3 linked regions of the Homo sapiens genome follow. The protein of the gene in region 2 purifies or fractionates together with the protein of the main gene of each other region. This does not show direct contact. Each region holds a gene or a part of one and is shown on either strand. Other genes may lie near its edges. The genes, in order: MTMR4, PADI4 and DNPEP.

The links.
Region 1: the proteins of PADI4 (region 2) and MTMR4 purify together in Homo sapiens (affinity purification with mass spectrometry; one large-scale study listed by BioGRID and IntAct). This does not show direct contact.
Region 3: the proteins of PADI4 (region 2) and DNPEP purify together in Homo sapiens (co-immunoprecipitation; one large-scale study listed by IntAct). This does not show direct contact.

What each region holds. Positions count from the first base shown.
Region 1 is NC_000017.11:58,508,002-58,511,652, reverse strand, and holds part of MTMR4 (phosphatidylinositol-3,5-bisphosphate 3-phosphatase MTMR4), read left to right. Parts: intron 1-141; coding exon 142-224; intron 225-2,811; coding exon 2,812-2,972; intron 2,973-3,088; coding exon 3,089-3,185; intron 3,186-3,378; coding exon 3,379-3,492; intron 3,493-3,651. UniProt on the Homo sapiens protein: Lipid phosphatase that specifically dephosphorylates the D-3 position of phosphatidylinositol 3-phosphate and phosphatidylinositol 3,5-bisphosphate, generating phosphatidylinositol and phosphatidylinositol 5-phosphate.
Region 2 is NC_000001.11:17,356,583-17,360,233, forward strand, and holds part of PADI4 (protein-arginine deiminase type-4), read left to right. Parts: intron 1-2,255; coding exon 2,256-2,326; intron 2,327-2,697; coding exon 2,698-2,826; intron 2,827-3,651. UniProt on the Homo sapiens protein: Catalyzes the citrullination/deimination of arginine residues of proteins such as histones, thereby playing a key role in histone code and regulation of stem cell maintenance.
Region 3 is NC_000002.12:219,371,392-219,374,727, forward strand, and holds the end of DNPEP (aspartyl aminopeptidase), read right to left. Parts: intron 2,952-3,336; coding exon 2,901-2,951; 3' UTR 652-2,900; downstream 1-651.

The sequences.
Region 1 (3,651 bases), on a different chromosome or scaffold from region 2:
TACAGTTACCAGGTGCTTAACAGACCCTCAGTAAATGTTGGTTTCCTTCCTGCTATTGATACATTAGTGCCTACGCTAGGGTGAGGGTGAGGAGTGGTACCCAGTGGGGAGTCTGAGCTTCAGTTTGCCCTTCCTCTACAGGTCCCCCTCCGGATGATTGACAGTGTGGAGAGCCGTGATATGTTCCAGTTGCACATTTCCTGCAAGGACTCCAAAGTGGTGAGGTGAGAACAACGGAGCCTCACTCAGGTCCCCTGGCCCTAGTCTTGTCCAGTTCTCTGTGCTGCAGGGTTTCTCTGGTGCAAGAGAGGAAAGATCCTGCCTCACTTTCCCCAGTTGGAAGAAAAGGTGAAGACCATGTTCTGGGTTGGGAGGTCAGTTTACTGACCCATAGGATCTTGACCTGAAAAAATGGGGGTAATGCCTAGTTCATGGAGTCATCGTAAGGATTAAGTGAGATAATGTGTATGTGTATGAAAGCACCGAGGACAATATCTGGCACAGAGCACTCATATTATTGTTGGTTTATTTATTTATTCATTTGATATACATGTATTGAGTACCCTACTCAATGCCAGCCTGTTTTAAGCCCTGGGGATACAGCAGGGAACAAATAGACAAAATTTTGCCGCCTCAGAGAGCTTACATTCCAATGAGGAGATACCAACCGTAAGTAATAAGTAAAATTTGTGAAATGATAGTAAGTGTAAAGGAAAAAAATAAAGCAGGGAAAGGGAATAAGGAGTGCTATGAGGGTGAAGATTGTAAAACAATCAGGCTGGGCACGGTGGTTCACGCCTGTAATACCAGCACTTCGGGTGGCCAAGGTGGGAAGATCCCTTCAGCTTAGGAGTTCAAGATCAGCCTGGGCAACATAGCGAGACCCCATCTCTACTAAAAATAGAAAAAATTAGCCAGGTGTGGTGATGCGTGGGGAGATCGCTTCAGCTTAGGAGTTCAAGATCAGCTTGGGCAACAGGACGAGACCCCATCTCTACTAAAAATATAAAAAATTAGCCAGGCGTGGTGATGCATGCCTGTAGTCCCAGCTACTCAAGAGGCTGAGATAGGAGGACCTCTTGAGCCTGAGAAGTCGAGGCTGCAGTGAGCTGTGATTACACCACTGCACTCCAGCCTGGATGACAGAGTGAGACCCTGTCTCAAAAAAACAAAAGTGATCAGAGAAGCTGCACCGAAAAGGTGGCAGTCGAGTCAAGACTTGAAGAAAGTGGCCATGTGGCTATTTGGTGGAAGAGTGTGCCAGAGACAGAGAACGGCAAGTGCAAAGGCCTTGAGGTGGGTGTGTGCCTGCATATTGGGAGACTGGCAGGGAGGCTGGTGTTGTTGGAGTAGAGCACGTGTGGGTGAGGGTAGTGGGTTATATGACCTGAGAACAAAGCCGGGTGTCAGACACTTTGGCTGTCATGAAGACTGGCTTTTACTTTGAGGGAACTGAGAAACCACTGGAGGATTTTGAGCAAAGGAGTGATGTGATCTGATTAATGTTTCATAGAATCACACTGGCTGCTATATTGAGACTAGATGAAAGAGAATGGGGGCAAGAGCAAAAGCAAAAACTGGGAGACTAGTTAGGAAGCTATTGCAGTTACCCAGATGAGAGATCATGGTGGCCTGTCTGAGGTGGTAGCAGCCAAAGCGGTGAGAAGCATTCAGATTCTGGGTGTATTTTGAAGGTGGAGATGAGAAGATTTGCTGACAGATTTGAAGTGAAAGAAAGAGGAATCTGGATGACTCCAAGGTTTATTAAAAGGATACCTACTTTAGAGCCTACCATGTGCTCAGGTCTGTGGGGCATTCAGAAGGAGCATTCACATTGCCCTTCCCTTCAAGGAGGCTAAACTCTAGCTGCTGGAAGAAGATTTAACATGTGGCAATATGCTATGGGAAAATGTGTTGCTTAGTACTCCAAGTAGGCCAGGCACAGTGGCACATACCTGTAATCCTAGTACTTTGGGAGGCCGAGGGAGGAGGATCGCTTGAGCCCAGGAGTTCAAGATCAGCCTGGACAACATAGAGAGACCCTGTCTCTATGAAGAATTTAAAAAGTTAGCCAGACGTGGTGGTGCACAATTATGGTCTCAGCTACTCAGGGGACTGATTTGTGAGGATTGCCTGAGCCCAGGAGGTCGAGGCTGCAGGGAGCTGTGATCGTGCCACTACACTCCAGCCTGGGTGACAGAGCAAGAGCAAGACCCTCTCTCAAAAAAAAAAAAAAAGGTATATATATATATTCCAAGCACATTAAGAATCAAGAGAGGAAGGAGTTTCTGGAATAGAGTAGGCTGGGAAGGCTTCAAGGAAGAGGTGAGACTGAAACTATCTTCAAAGCATCAGTAGGATGTGGCTAGGCAGAGAGGAGACATTATCAAGCAGAAGATAAACCAAGGAGATGGGAAGGATGTGAGCAGAACTTCCCGCCTGAAGCAGAAGGTTTGAGTTAGGGAGTCATGGGAGATAACACTGGTCCATTAGGGTAGGGACAAGGAGTGCAGACGTTCAGGGCCACATGGTAGCATTTAGATTTGATACGAGAAACAGTAGCGCCCCATTCGAGAGGATAAGTATGCCTCAAACACAGGAGTTCTTGGGAAGAGAATTATCACAAGAGACAACTTCTGTTGGGTGTTGGCCAGTGTCCCTCGTCCCCCCACCCTGGGTCCCCACTGCTTTACCTCTTGCTTTGCAGCCTTCTCTCCTCACAGCCTTCCTGTGGCTGTGTTTTTGGCCCTGATAGCCCCATGGCACAACTGCACTTTGCCTCACCTAGGCCTGTGGCTTCTTGCCTGGCAGGTGCCACTTCTCCACTTTTAAGCAGTGCCAAGAGTGGCTCTCACGGCTAAGCCGAGCCACAGCAAGACCTGCCAAGCCTGAAGACCTCTTTGCCTTTGCCTACCATGCCTGGTGCCTGGGGCTGACCGAGGAGGACCAGCACACTCACCTATGTCAGCCAGGTGAGGCCAGTCTATTTTCTTTGGGAGGCTGCTTCTTACCCCTTAGTTCTCATCCCTCCTCCACTCCTGCACATTGGTGCTCTGGGAAGCTAACCATCGTGGGGGCTCTGTTGCAGGTGAGCACATACGTTGTCGACAGGAGGCGGAGCTTGCAAGGATGGGCTTTGACCTGCAGAACGTCTGGAGAGTCTCACACATCAACAGCAACTACAAGTGAGAGGGTTGGGGACCAAAACACCTTCCACACCAAACTACTTCCGTGTTTGGATAAAGTGTGGTGGGCACAGCTTCTGAGTCTGAGAGGGAGGAAGGCTCATGGTTTCTCTTCCCACAAAGCCATCCCCAGGGATCCTGTCATCACATGTTTTAGACCCAGTGCAGTGACCCCCACCTGGTCTCTTCTCAGATTGTGCCCCAGTTACCCCCAGAAGCTGCTGGTTCCTGTGTGGATCACTGACAAAGAGCTGGAGAACGTGGCTTCCTTCCGCTCCTGGAAGCGGATTCCCGTGGTTGTGTATAGGTGAGGCAGTGGGGCTGGGAAGTAGGGAGGCCATTTCTTATGCAACAAGGAAAGAGTCAAAATTGGAGATTTTGGGTAACCTGGTTGACTGAGAATTGACACTCTATGGGGAAGTATGAAATAACTTTAAAACAAAAACTATCTTAGTTTTTTCTCCTA
Region 2 (3,651 bases):
TGTGCCAAGTGCTAGGGAGACTGCATGAACAGGGCAGAACAGCTTGCTGCCCTGTGGGCTCACAGGCCAGGGGGAAGTGAGTCAAAAGAACAGCTCCAACACAGGGGCTTTGAGGGGTGTCTGAGTGGATGGAGCTCAGGGAAGGCTTCTTGGAGGAGGCAGAGGCCAAGCAGTAGCATGCAAGTAGGGGTTGGCTGGGCAAACGGGGCAGGGAAATGAGAGGAAGAGAGATACCACAGGCAGAGGGACGGGGGTGGGGCGGCTCAGAGGCAGGAGAAAGCACGATGTGTGTGAGGACCTCGGGGAGGTTCGGTATAGCTGGAGCACAGATGAAATATTACTCTCTCAGCAGAGCTCACAGACATGGGCCAGGCCCCGGGCTGAGATGCCTCTGTGGCTGAGAGCTCCACCTCAGATCTGAGTATGTTGTGTGGCATCAGGAGAGGGCTGACCTGTTTCTTCCTCTCTCGATGGGATCTCTTTGGAGATAAGATAATTTAGCGTTAATGCAAGGCAAAATGTTCCAGTGAACAAGTTTCATGGTTCAACTTTATAATAATTATAAGTAAACCTGTTAAATTTTTCTGGACATTCTTTTCTTTTGAAACGAAGTTTTCCTCTATTGCCCAGGCTGGAGTGCAATGGCGCGATCTCGACTCTCTGCAGCCTCTGCATCCCGGGTTCAAGTGATTCTCCTGCCCCAGCCTTCCGAGTAGCTGGGATTACAGGTGTGCACCACCACACCTGGCTAATGTTTTGTATTTTTAGTAGAGATGGGGTTTTGCCATGCTGGCCAGGCTGGTCTCGAACTCCTGACCTGGTGATCCACCCACCTCGGCCTCCCAAAGTGCTGGGGTTACAGGCATGAGCCACCACGCCTGGCTTAAAACAAGGACATTTCTTATTGACAGCAACTAAATGGTACTTGTAGCATTTTTATCACACAGTAGATTCCATCCATTCACTATACTTTTCTGAGCTGTCTGTCCTGCATGCAAGTAGATATTTTTAATGTTGTCTGTTTTCTGTGCTGTTCCTGTAAGTGTGCTATTAAAATACACTAAACTAGGCTGGGCGCGATGGTTCATGCCTGTAATCCTAGCACTTTGGGAGGACGAGGCGGGTGGATCACGAGTTCAGGAGTTCAAGGCCAGCTAGGCCAAGATGGTGAAACCCCGTCTCTACTAAAAATACAAAAATTAGCCGGGCGTGGTGGCGGGTGCCTGTAATCCCAGCTACTTGGGAGGCTGAGGCAGGAGAATCACTCGAACCCGGGAGGTGGAGGTTGCAGTGAGCCAAGAATGTGCCACTGCACTCTAGCCTGGGTGACAGAGCAAGACTCAGTCTCAAAAAAAAAAAAAAAAACAAGAAAATATTAAACTAGGCCAAGTGTGGTGGCTCACACCTGTAATCCTAGCACTTTGGGAGGCTGAGGCGGGTGGATCACCTGAGGTCAAGAGTTTGAGACCAGCCTGGCCAACGTGATGAAACCCCGACTTTACTAAAAGTACAAAAATTAGCTGGGCGCAGTGGTGCGCACCTGTAATCCCAGCTACTGGGGAGGCTGAGGCAGGAGAATCGCTTGAACTCGGGAGGTGGAGGTTGCAGTGAGTCAAGATCGCACTACTGCACTCCAGCCTGGGCGACAGAGCAAGGCTCTGTCTCAAAACAAAAAAAAAATTACACTATAAAAATATATTTTAGGCCGGGCGCGGTGGCTCACGCCTGTAATCCCAGCACTTTGGGAGGCCGAGGCGGGCGGATCACGAGGTCAGGAGATCGAGACCATCCTGGGTAACACGGTGAAACCCCGTCTCTACTAAAAATACAAAAAATTAGCCGGGCGAGGTGGCGGGCGCCTGTAGTCCCAGCTACTCCGGAGGCTGAGGCAGGAGAATGGCGTGAACTCCAGGGGGCGGAGCCTGCAGTGAGCCGAGATTGCGCCACTGCACTCCAGCCTGGACGACAGCGAGACTCCGTCTCAAAAAAAAAAAAAAATAATAATAAAAATAAAAATATATTTTAAAAAGAATTTAAATGAGGTGAGAACAACATTTTTAATGAGAACTTATACTGCTAAAATATTGTATTAAAGATATTTGACTTGCAGATGCTCACAGCAAACCTGTATGGTAAGAATTATTACTGACTCCATTTTATAGATGGGAACACTGAGTCCCCCCCCGGCACTGGCTGGGAAGAGGGAAATCGACCTCTAAGTTCATTTGCCTTTTTTTTCTTTTTCTCCATGACAGAAAAAAAACAGCAGAAAATAAAGAACATTCTGTCAAACAAGACATTGAGAGAACATAATTCATTTGTGGAGGTAGGAGCCTGGGTGCCTACACCCCAGCAGACCTGACGCCCTGTCCCCGGCTCAGCCACTTTCCCAGTGATTAGAGGCACACAGAGGCTCAGGGTCTCAGGATGCGCTGGAAGACAGAGACACAGAAGCAAGGGCAGAAGCAAAGACTGGGAGAGGCTGAGGGAGCAGAGGGAATGGGAGGCCCCAGGGTCCCCCGAGAGCACTGGCCAGAGGCCCCTCTGTGCAGTGAGGCCTGGCAGCCACCTTCACTGCCTTCCTGACACTGTCCCAGGTCCTACCCTCCGGCAGGGGGCCTCAGCCCCACACTGTCCCCCACCCCCACCCCCGACTGCCATCAGTCCCCCACTCACTGCCCCTGCCCCTTCCCCAAGAGATGCATCGACTGGAACCGCGAGCTGCTGAAGCGGGAGCTGGGCCTGGCCGAGAGTGACATCATTGACATCCCGCAGCTCTTCAAGCTCAAAGAGTTCTCTAAGGCGGAAGCTTTTTTCCCCAACATGGTGAGGAGGTGGCGGCTTTAAAACCCCAGGGTGTGGCATGGAGGTAGCTCAGCCCGAGAGGCCAGTGGGGCACCCGGGCGGTCCCAGAGGGCTTGGCTCCTCTCTGTAACCGTTTGTAGCTTTGTCCTGAGTGGTACAAGGTCAGACGTGACCAGGTCCATGCACGTTGGTGTCTTTCCACAAGGTCAGGCTTCTACTGATGCTATTTCCATCATAAAATCCACAAGCCACACGGAGTTCCCCAGGGGCAGTCCTCAGGTGGGCAGAGCCCTGGGCACACAGGCTCAAGCCACTCCACAAGTCAGTCAGTCCTGCAAACCATACATAGTAGTGTACTTAATCAACACAGAAATGTTACAGATGAAACATTCTTACCAAACAAAGCAATATTTAACATCAAGAGAGAAGGGGATAGGAAAAGGGGTCAGTGAACCAGTCCAAGGAGAGTGATGTGGACAAGGAGAGGGTCCTGGGCTGATCTAAATGGACATCAACGTCTTGCAAGGAAGAGTGTAATTTTGGCAGAGCCTTCAACAGCGGGTGCCAGGTGCTAATCACTAGTGACAGCAAGACAGTGTCTGTTAAGACAGTCATCTTGAGGCCGGGTGCGGTGGCTCACGCCTGTAATCCTAGCACCTTAGTAGGCCAGAGCGGGTGGATCACTTGAGGTCAGGAGTTCGACACCAGCCTGGCTAACATGGTGACACCCCCATCTCTACTAAAAATACGAAAATTAGACAGGTGTCCTGGCAGGAGCCTGTAATCCCAACTACTTGAGAGGCGGAAGCAGGAGAATCACTTGAACCTGGGAGACGGAGGTTGCAG
Region 3 (3,336 bases), on a different chromosome or scaffold from region 2:
GTTGGTTGGGGCAACAGTGGGAGAAGAGGCGGAGGAGGTAGAATAGGGGGTAGCAGGGGTGGGGGTTCAGGAGAGCCAGGCATACTTGGTATAACTTTTTTTTTTTTCCAAGACGGAGTCTTGCTCTGTTGCCCAGGCTGGAGTGCAGTGGTGCGATCTCCGCTCACTGCAACCCCCGCCTCCCAGGTTCAAGCAGTTCTGTTGCCTCAGCCTCCCAAGTAGCTGGGATTACAGGCGCCCACCACCACAACCTGCTAAATTTTGTATTTTTAGTAGAGATGGGGTTTCACCATGTTGGCCAGGCTGGTCTCGAATTCCTGACCTCATGATCCGCCCACCTCAGCCTCCCAAAGTGCTGGGATTACAGGTGTGAGCCACCGCACCTGGCCGGTATAACTTTTATTGGGACAAATCCACATGTAAGTGGATGAATTTGAACTGCACAGGTCCATTTATATGTGGATTTTCTTCCACCTCTGGGGTAACATTTCTATCACCCTCTTAAAAGTTTTCTTGCACCCTTTTGCAACCAAACTCTCTCTCAATCCTTGACATTCAAGCAACCACTGGTCTGCTGTCACTATAGTTCAGCTGGCATTTTCTAGAATTTATCCCATGGGAAAAACCAAGGCAAATGTACAATGATATATGTACATTTATCTCAATGTTATTTAGAGTTGTCAACTGGAGAAAAACTTAAATGACCATTATTAACAGACTGAATAAATAATGACCATCTATACAATAAAATACTGTACGCCAATTGTAAGAGTAAATACAGTGTGAGGGTAAAATTTTTTACATAAGTAATACATGGTACATTCTGTTATACAAAAGGAAACCATTACAAAAAGGCTAAGGCCCTTTTGTCACTCCCAACCCAGAAGATCACTGTAAAAGTTTCAGGTGCATTTTTCCAGGCTTTTTCTATACATGTATACATCTACGTGCATATTTATATACACATAAAAATATATAATAATTTTTTTTTTGAGACGGAGTCTGGCTCTGTCGCCCAGGCTGGAGTGCAGTGGCTCAATCTTGGCTCACTGCAGCCTCTGCCTCCCTGGCTCAAGCTATTCTCCTGCCTCAGCCTCCCGAGTAGCTGGGATTACAGGCACCCACCACCACGCATGGCTAATTTTTTTTGTATTTTTAGTAGAGAGGTTTTCACCATGTTGGCCAGGCTGGTTTTGAACTCCTGACCTCAAGTGATCTGCCCACCTCGGCCTCCCAAAGTGCTGGGATTACAGGCATAAGCCACCGTGCCTGGCCATATAATGTTTTGAAGGTACTCCTTGTCCTGTGTCCAGTTCTGCAACCTGCCTTTTCTACTCAACAATGTCTTTGTAATCTCTTCATGTTAGTACACACACTATACAATTTATCTTTTTCTCAATAGCTACCTATAATGGACATTTCATAGTGTATTTGGGCTTGCCTTTACTGAGAAATCTTTAGATGAATTCTAACTTTTTGCCATTGCTAAATTAAATTTATATGTATTGATATAGAAATATCTCTATATTATATTAAGTTTTTTAGAAAGCTGAAGTGGAATATTTATATGGAAATAAACTTTTATATAGGTATCAAAAAGATTGGAAGGACACCAGTTTGCACAATTATTTTAGTGGAAGGAAGGAGGTTGGTTTATAAGCAGGCTTTGACTTTTTCTTTTTCTTTTTTTTTTTTTGAGAGAGTTTCACCCTTGTTGCCCAGGCTAGAGTGCAATGGCAGGATCTTGGCTCACCACAACCTCCGCCTCCTGGGTTCAAGCGATTCTCCTGCCTCAGCCTCCGGAGTGGCTGAGATTACAGGCATGTGCCACCACGCCCGGCTAATTTTGTATTTTTAGCAGGGACAGGGTTTCTCCATGTTGGTCAGGCTGGTCTTGAACTCCCGACCTCAGGTGATCCGCCCACCTCAGCCTCCTAAAGTGCTGGGACTACAGGCATGACCCATCACGCCTGGCCTTTTTTCTCTGAGACAGAGCCTTGCTCTGTTGCCCAGGCTGGAGTGTGGTGGCTCCATCTCAGCTCACTGCAACCTACGCCTCCTTGGTTCAAGCTATTCTCCTGCCTCAGTCTCCTGAATAGCTGAGATTACAGGTGTGTGCCACCATGCCTGGCTAATTTTTTTGTATTTTTTTTTAAGTAGAGATGGGTTTCACCATGTTGGCAAGGCTGGTCTTGAACTCTGACCTCAAGTGATCCACCTGCCTTGGCCTCCCAAAATGCTGGGAATACAGATGTGAGCCGCTGCACCCGGCCAGACTTTGACTTTTCCAATTTTTTCAATGATAATCTTTTTTCCTGATAATATGTTCACAATCAAGTAATACCAGGGACTGCTGAGAAGTGGATGATGAAGGGTGATAAGGTATAGACTGTGCCCTTCTCTTTGCAGCTCCTGAGAGGGGATGGGAAGGGATTTTGGGAGGGTGAGAAACAGCTTTGTCTGCCCAGAGCAGCTCTGAAGGTGGCCCAGTGCAGAACAGGATCTCTGAAGGCAGAGCGGGACACCCATTCTGGGGATGGAAAGAGGGAAGACCGTTGAGGCCATTTCCCAGGTGGAGGACTAGGGGTGGGAGAAGTGACCTTCTGCTTGAGGATCCAGTCCACCCTTCACCCACTTCAGACATGGACTTGAGACAGAGAAGAGATTTAAAACCAGATTTAAAACCATCAGCTCCCAGGAGTGTGGCCTCCTCCACCTGCTCCCCAACTTTTCTGGTTCCAAAGGTTCAAGCCAGGCTCAACTCCCACTCCTCTAGTCTCCAAATAAGCGTAGCACGGAGAGTCTGAGTGACAATCCACTTTAATAATCCAGCTTCAGCTCAGCTGAGAACTTCCCCTCTCAGGTGCAAAGGGATGGCAGAGAAGTCTTTCCAAGAGGGCTCAATCCACTAAGAGATTATGGCTTAGAGAAGGGAACAGCTCAAAGAAGCCCTATAATGGGAGGCAACATGGAGTTTGGAATTAGTGAGTGACCAGATGGAGATGTCCTGCCACCCACCTCCCACCAACATATGTTCCAGCAAGAGAAGCACCGAGGTTTCATCTGTTCTTGACAGCCACCCCAGTCTTCTCAGCCCTGATCCCCTCTTCCCATCCCCTCATTTTCCATTTCTTTGGGTCAGGGCCCCTGAGCCTTGAGAAGAATAAGGACCGTTGTTTTATCTCTTTTTTCTCTTTTGTAGAGACATGGACTTGCCATGTTGCTCAGGCTGGTCTCAAACTCCTGGCCTCAAGCAATCCTCCCACCTCCCCAAGTGTTGTCATTATAGCATGAGCCACTGTGGTTGGCCAGGACCCTTGTTTTCCTACATGGCCC